2 linked regions of the Homo sapiens genome follow. The protein of the gene in region 2 purifies or fractionates together with the protein of the main gene of each other region. This does not show direct contact. Each region holds a gene or a part of one and is shown on either strand. Other genes may lie near its edges.

Region 1 (4,080 bases), on a different chromosome or scaffold from region 2:
CCCCCTCGTTACTGTGGAACGGGTAGGCCCAGAAACGTGAATGGTCACCAGAAGAGGAGATTAAAACACCATCTGCTCTGAAATCAGGCCGAAGAGGACAAACAGCTAACTCCTGGCCCAGGAACCTGGAGTGGCTGTTTCCAGGCCGGGCCTCCCTGAGACAGGGGCCCTGGTTGGAGTTTAGGGGTTGAGAGGAGTAGGAGAGTGAGATGCCACCAGGCCTCTACCCCAATGAGAGGCACCAGAGCAAAGGGGCTACACCCCGAAACTCTGAGGCACGCTGGGTTCTGGCCTCTGCCCCTGTTTAGGCTGCATGACCTTGGGCAGAACACTTAGTATTTGTGTCTCCGTGTCCAATCTGAAATGGGGCTGTGCTGTCCATCCCTCATTAAGCTGCTGCAATTCTGAGGAATAAATGATTCCTGCTTGTCAGGAAAGCTCTTGGAACAGTGCCAGACACATAGCACAGGAAACACCGCCAGGCCTCGGGGCCGCAGTGTCTGGGGAAGGCTTGGTGGAGGCTGCTCACCCCCACCCTGGTGGACTCAACTGGGCCTCCCTGGGGCTGCTGGAAGATGCTCACAGCCCAGCCCCTGGCCTCAGGGCCTCCCCTAAGCCCCTCATCTACTGTGGGGTCAACAACAGCCACGGGAGTGCCACCCGCAGACAGGACCAGGTTCCCACCCAACCCAGGTGTCAGCCATGACTGAAATGTCCCCAGTAAGGGCTCCAGTTTGTCTGATGGCAGAGGACCACTGGCTCTCTCCTCACCCTCAGCGCAGATCTGCCTTTGCCCATGAAGATCCTTCAGAGCCAAGTGAGATCCTGATACCGGAGGAGGGCCAGGAAGTGCTGGGTAGAGAAAGGCAGGTCCCTGGCCAGGGCTCCACCTCCACAGACCCAGGTGAGGACAGGCACTCCTGCCTTCGCACCCAAATGTTATATTTTCCAAGACCACCCTGGCCCGCCACACCCCAATCCTGTGCCTATAAAAACCTGAGACACACAACCGGCTGGACGTACTGAGGAACACATAGGCAGAAGACACAAGCGGCTGGTTGTCAAAAGCGCGCCGGCAGAAGATCACGCCGACAGGCACTGGCAGGCCTGCAGGCCATTGACAAGCGGAATGATGCGGAGTTTGGCCAGAGCGGTTGGAGGAGAAGAGTCGGCTGCTGAGTGGCCCAACTCCAGGGAAAAACTGTCTCCCTTCTGGCTCCCCCATCTGCTGAGAGCTACTTCTACTCAATAAAACCTTGCACTCTTCTCCAAGCCCACATGTGATCTGATTCTTCCCCTACACCAAGGCAAGAAACCCCAGGATACAGAAATCCCTCTGTCCTTGTGATAAGGAAGGAGGTCTAATTGAGCCAGTTAACACAAGCCGCCTATAGACAGCAAACTAAAAGAGCACCCTGTAACACACACCCACTGGGGCTTCAGCTGTAAACATTCACCCCTAGACACTGCCATGGGGTCAGAGCCCCACAGCCTGCCCGTCTGTATGCTCCTCTAGAGGTCTGAGCAGCTGGGTACTGAACAAGCGAGCCACACCCCCGTCGCATGCCCTGTGAGAGGGACAAAGGAACCTTTCCTGTTTCACTCCCACTAACTCTCCTCAGACCCACCCCATGTCCACCCCAGCCTCCATGCCCAACGCGCCTTCCTTGTTAAGAACTCAGCTCAGAAGCCCTTCAAGTGTTGTTTATTAATGTCAGAGTCCTCGGATTTGTCGGTGGGACCAAATGATATTCTCATGATGAGAACAAGGAGGGATCACAAGCTAAAGGTGGGGGCAGCGGAAAAAACATCCAGGGCCAGGGACCCTCAGGTGCTGGCGGCCGTGAGTGTGGCAACCTCTCCAGACATCCTCCTCGTGCCCTTCCTCCTGTTCGCTGGAGCATTTTCCGCTTTCCCGAACGATCAGAGCCCCCGGGCCCAACTGTTCTTGGGTTCCAGGCCCATGAAGGGACCCCTGGGGTCACAGCACAAGGGCACCAGGGTCTAATGGGAGAGCCCTGGTCTGAGACGCAGGCCCGTCCCACTTCCTGCCCACACAGGTCTGAGACACAGGCCCATCCCGCCTCCTGCCCACACGCGGTACAGCCTACACTCTTGGTCCAGTGGCTCTGATCCTTCATGACCCAGTCCCACCCCCCATCTCTACCACGGCAGCGTCATCCCCAACCCCATCCTCCCACCAGGACTGAGAAATGCTCCCAAACCCGCCACTCTGTCCAAATGACGCTTTTGTGTTACCTGGGACACAGGGAGAATTCTCATCCCTGGAGCTTTAAGTACTTTCTTGTCTTTGATGCTGCCCTACACAGGATCCGAGTCACTCCAGGGCCTCTCTCTCTCTCGCCCCCGAGATTTCTCCCCCTTTACTGGCTAAATGGACAAACGTAGAACCTCGTTGGAATGTGGAATATGATACAATACATCCAATGCTTCACAAGGGCTCGATGAGCTTTAATCCACCCCATTATCCTTTAGAAATGGTCGTTGAACTGGAAGTTCAGATTTGGAGAAAGGGAAATGGAGAAAATTCCATGGTGTCTCTCGTAAAAGGACAGCAAGAAACCTTTCACACTAGAAGGAGGTCGGCTATTCCCCACAGCACCAGGAACAGGGTGGAAAAGGGGCTTCTAATCCCCACACCCAGGCCCCCAAAGAACACGTGGGTGAACCCAAGGGGTGCCGGCCTCCCCACCCAGCGGCCTTACCTGGGTGTGCCGGGGCCTGGCCGCGTCGGGAGGTTCTGGTCCGTGGGGCATGTAGCAGCCGCACGCCCAGCCACCCCCACTGGCAACAGAGGCCTATTTTTAGGGTCAGATCTGCTGACGCTGACCTTGCGTGCCGTCCAGTCTAAGAGGAGACCTATGACATCTGCTTGCAAAATGATTTTCCAGTGCGACCTGAAACCCTTGACTTAGGAAGCCCTGTACCTGAAGCCTACACGCTTGTCCCCGGCCCAGCCACAGAGGCAGGACATGTGGCCACCAGGGCAGGGACAGACAGGAATTTTCCAACTTTGTTTTCCTGGGATGGACGAAGCCAGGTGTCTACAGGCCCTGCCCTGAGCCCTGTCCCAGAACAGCTAGAACAGGGGAGGTTTGCCCACTGGCACAGCTCTCTATTCCAGTCTTTTCTGAGAGTTTGTGGAGCTATCTCTGGGAGGCCAATGGAATGGATGCCACATCACACAGGGTAATCAATGAAACTCTGGGCAGAGTTTGTGCTGTGTGGCTTCCAGTGAGACCCCAGCAAGCACCCAACCATGCTGGGCTTCAGTGGGGATAATGATCATAATATCCTCCTCTTACATTGCTATGAGGACTGAATGAGATAAAGAATTTGGTGGTATTAGAATATTTAACAGTCTCCAGTGAGCCAAGATTGTGCCACTGCACTCCAGCCTGGGTGACAAAGCAAGACCCTGTCTCAAAAAAAAAAAAAAAAAAAAAAAAAAAAAATATATATATATATATATATATATATATATTTAACGTTAACAGTCATTAACAGTCGTTCCCAGGTCTCTCTTCTTGGCCCTTTCTTCTGTCAACCTTCCTCCTCAATGGCTCCAGAGTTCTTTGCTCTGGGATCCCTCCCACCAAGCCCTACCAATGTAGCCCCGCTTTTTAATACTTACGGGCAAAATCCTGCCCAGTCTCCTCTAATTTTCTAGTAAAATCTTCCCAGGGCTTGCTACAGTTCCTTATAATGAATGACGTGGTTCTCCATTCGTATCCATCCTTGTCATCCTCTCTGGGGCATGCTTTAGTGTGTGAAGGACTGGGAGAAGTAGGGAAGGAAGCACCAGGCTCCCACATCTTTCACTTAACACAATCTTCTTGCATTGGGGTCATTATATTGTCCTCTGAAACTTTATTCACCCAACCAAAGATCTTCCTCACAATTTGCTACATTAGCTACTGCCAGTTTAATTTATAGCAATTATTTCTACTAGTACTATTCATTGCTAAGTGACTTAGCTTTTATTGATTTCTTGGTGTGAGGAAAATTCCCAAGGCAAATACACAGAATCTGAGTGTACAATGAAGTCAGAATGTCAGA
Region 2 (3,500 bases):
CTCCCAAGGTGCTGGGATTAAAGGCGTGAGCCACCGCGCCTAGCATATGTTTATTTTTAATTTAGAACTCATCGTGGCTTGTCTATATACATTGGAATAATGATGTGACACACAAACTGTTGTGAAAAATGTCAGTTACTTTGAATGTAAGCATTTTTTCCAAAATCACTTATGTGTCTAAACCAATTCCTTCTATAAATCAGTAAGAAAATGATAAAACAATTCAACAGGAAAATGAACAAAGGCCAGAAAACTCAGAGAAGAAACACAAATGTTCAATAAACATATAAAGATACTAAATTAAATTCATGAGTAATCAGAAAAATTCACATTTAGATGGAATCCCTTTTATTCATCCATAACTTCAGCAAAAAGTTGGAGAATACCCAGCGGTGAAAAGGTGTTGGGAAATGAATGCTGTCATATTCTGCTGACAATAGAGTAAGTTGGCACAAAATTTTTGAAGGCAATTAAAATTTTATATCTACATAGTCTTCACCCCAAGAATTCCATTTCCAGATATCTATGCTACAGGAATACTTGCACATGTTCACAAAGAAGCATGTACAGGGATTTCATTGCAGCAATGCATGTAACAAGAAAACTAAGCATAATCTAAACATTCATCAATGGGGGAATTATTAAATAAACCATGATGCATCCATACTATGGATTATGCAGGAGTTTAAATGAATGGGGTGACCCTCTCAGTACTGGGAAGGAAAGAAATCTAAGGCATATCATGAAGTGAAAGAATCAAGTTGCAAGATGTTACCCTTTATGCGAAGAAAAAATTTTAAAACCACAAAACAAATCTATTTTGCTTTATGTAAATATGTATGTAGGTAAATGAGGAAAAGTCTGGAAGCATGTATACTAAATGCAGAGTAGCATTACTTCAGGGATGAGGGAGTAGGGCACAAGGAGAGTTTTTGTTATATCTGTTATTGCATTTTTATATATTAAAAATGGAATCATGGGCTGCGGGTGGTGGCTCATGCCTGTAATATGAACACTTTAAGAGGCCAAGGTGGGAGGATCACTTGAGCCCAGGAGTTCAAGACCAGCCTAAGCAGCATAGGAAGACCCTGTCTCTACAAAAAATACAAAATTAGGTGGGTGTGGTGGCATGCACCTGTGGTCCCAGCTACTGGGGAGGCTGAGGTGAGAGGATCACTTGGGCCTGGGAGGTGAAGGCTGCAGTGAGCTGTGATTGTGCCACTGCACTGCAGCCCAGAGGACAAAGTAAGACCCTGTCTCTGAAAAAAAAAAAAAAAAAAAAAAAAAGAGAACAAAAAGGAATATAACCATGTACTATTTGTATGATAAAAAATAAATTTAAATTGCCTCTTATTTTAAAGAGAGCCTACCAAATTTAATTTTAAAATAACCATACAATTGCAATCAACAGTGGTTGATTTGGGGCGTGGAGGAGAAATATCTTTCCTCAGAGGTACCGACCTCAAAATTCTGGACCAAGAAGGATCTTACAATGCAGTTAGCTTTTTGTCATATTTGGAGAGAATATACTCACAGTTTCTCGGTCCAACTGTATGCTTTCCATACATTTCCATCAATGTAAGAAATATAGTTTCCTTGGAAATTTCTGTGAAGAAACACAGTTTATATCCTTGAATAGGTAGGAAAACAATGAACACGATAAGTAAAAGAATCATTGCAATCTTGTTGGGGATATTCAGAAACAGAAAATAACACCTGCTTTCTCATTTCCAGAGCTATCAGCTTCCCAGTTTGCACAATTCATCAAGAAATTATGCGGGGTCACCGGCACAAATGATGAGGCATCTCCTGGAAGCTTAACTTCTTATCCATCCCATCTCTTGGACAGATGATGCCAGTTAATTACTTTGAATGTAAGTATTTTATCTAAAAGCACTTATGTGTCTAAACAGACTTCTACAAATCAGTACCAAAATGGTAAATAATTCCACAGAAATATGGGCAAAAGCTTATCATTATCAACAAATGAGAAGAAAGAAACCCTATGCCAGGTAACACCAAAGCTTTGGCCCAGTGCCCTCTGTTGAAACATCCTAGGCTTTTTCTTTCCACTCCTATTACAACTGATCTGATTTGGCCCCTTCACACCTCACTCCTAGATTTTGCTAGACCTTTCTATTTTGTCTCCCTGAATTAAGCTTTTCCTTTTGGACACTTTACATATGGATTCTAAAACAATCCTCTGCATGTCTACACTTGCACATAATGCAAAAAACAAAATAAAATAATCTTCCTGTTTTGATCATGTAATCTCTCTTGCTTGGAAACTTTCAATGGCTTTCCATACCTCATTGTGTAACTTTCAAACTCCTGTAGCTGATAATCAAGGTTTTACAGAATCGTATCTTCATTGCTCCCTCACCTAATTCTTTGTAGCCACATTGGTCTACTAAATTCCAACCATACCTGTAGCCATGCGTTTGCCTAGACTGTACTCCCATTTTTCTCCTATTTAACAAATTATGGCTACTCTTTAAGACCCAAGTAAAGTTTTAGCTTACCCATGTAGCATCTCCACACCTCAAGGATCACAGATTCTGGCAAATTCTAGCACCAATGGTCTGCATTATCTTTTAGTACTTAATTATATATACCTCCCTTTTTATGCCTATTCTCTTTCTTCCCTCCTATCATTTTTTTTTTTGAGATGGAGTCTTGCTCTGTCGCCCAGGCTGGAGTGCAGTGGTGCAATCTCGGCTCACTGCAAGCTCTGCCTCCCAGGTTCATGCCATTCTCCTGCCTCAGCCTCCCGAGTAGCTGGGACTCCAGGCACCCACCACCATGCCTGGCTAATTTTTTTCTGTATTTTTAGTAGAGATGGGGTTTCACCATGTTAGCCAGGATGGTCTTGATCTCCTGACCTCATGATCCGCCCGCCTCGGCCTCCCAAAGTGCTGGGATTACAGGCGTGAGCCACCACACCCAGCCTCTTCCCTCCTATCATTTTCGTGTTCTGGAGACAGTAGCATACTTGGCCCTGGGTTTGACATAAAACTAGTTCTACATATAGAAAGCTAGGGACAAAAATGAGTTCTGGACAAAACTAAAGGACTGAATAATCATGTGAACAGCCAACTCTCCTACATATGCTAAGCACTGATGAAGTGTTTCATATATTCACTCACCTAAATTTCACAACAATCCTATGAAATGCTAACTAGCATGATCCCCAGTTTAAAGGTGAGGAAATTGAGTCACAGGCAGAATAACTTGCTCTGGGTCACCAAGCTAATAAATAGATCTGGGTTCAAACCCAGGCAGCCTGGCTCCGGAATCAACTCTTAACCACTTAGAGCATCATCACTGAGATCGGGAGAGGGACAGGCTGCTGTAAAGAGGGTGAAGCGAAAATGGGAGGAGAGCAGCGGTTAAGCAATGATGTGATGGGGCTAAATAAAAATGGATACAAAAACGAGTAAAAGACCAGAGTAAAAGGAAAAGACTGGAGAAGGGGCCTAACATTAAAAGAGAATGAGGAG

The links. The genes of interacting proteins can lie anywhere in the genome.
Region 1: the proteins of LRRC37A2 (region 2) and DUSP29 purify together in Homo sapiens (affinity purification with mass spectrometry; one large-scale study listed by BioGRID and IntAct). This does not show direct contact.

Annotation. Positions count from the first base shown.
Region 1 is NC_000010.11:75,070,843-75,074,922, forward strand, and holds the start of DUSP29 (dual specificity phosphatase 29), read right to left. Parts: upstream 2,801-4,080; 5' UTR 2,727-2,800; intron 2,392-2,726; exon of another isoform or gene 2,260-2,391; intron 1-2,259. UniProt on the Homo sapiens protein: Dual specificity phosphatase able to dephosphorylate phosphotyrosine, phosphoserine and phosphothreonine residues within the same substrate, with a preference for phosphotyrosine as a substrate. Involved in the modulation of intracellular signaling cascades.
Region 2 is NC_000017.11:46,515,468-46,518,967, reverse strand, and holds part of LRRC37A2 (leucine-rich repeat-containing protein 37A2 isoform 1 precursor), read right to left. Parts: intron 2,267-3,500; exon of another isoform or gene 1,955-2,266; intron 1,875-1,954; exon of another isoform or gene 1,854-1,874; coding exon of another isoform or gene 1,735-1,853; intron 1,607-1,734; coding exon 1,535-1,606; intron 1-1,534.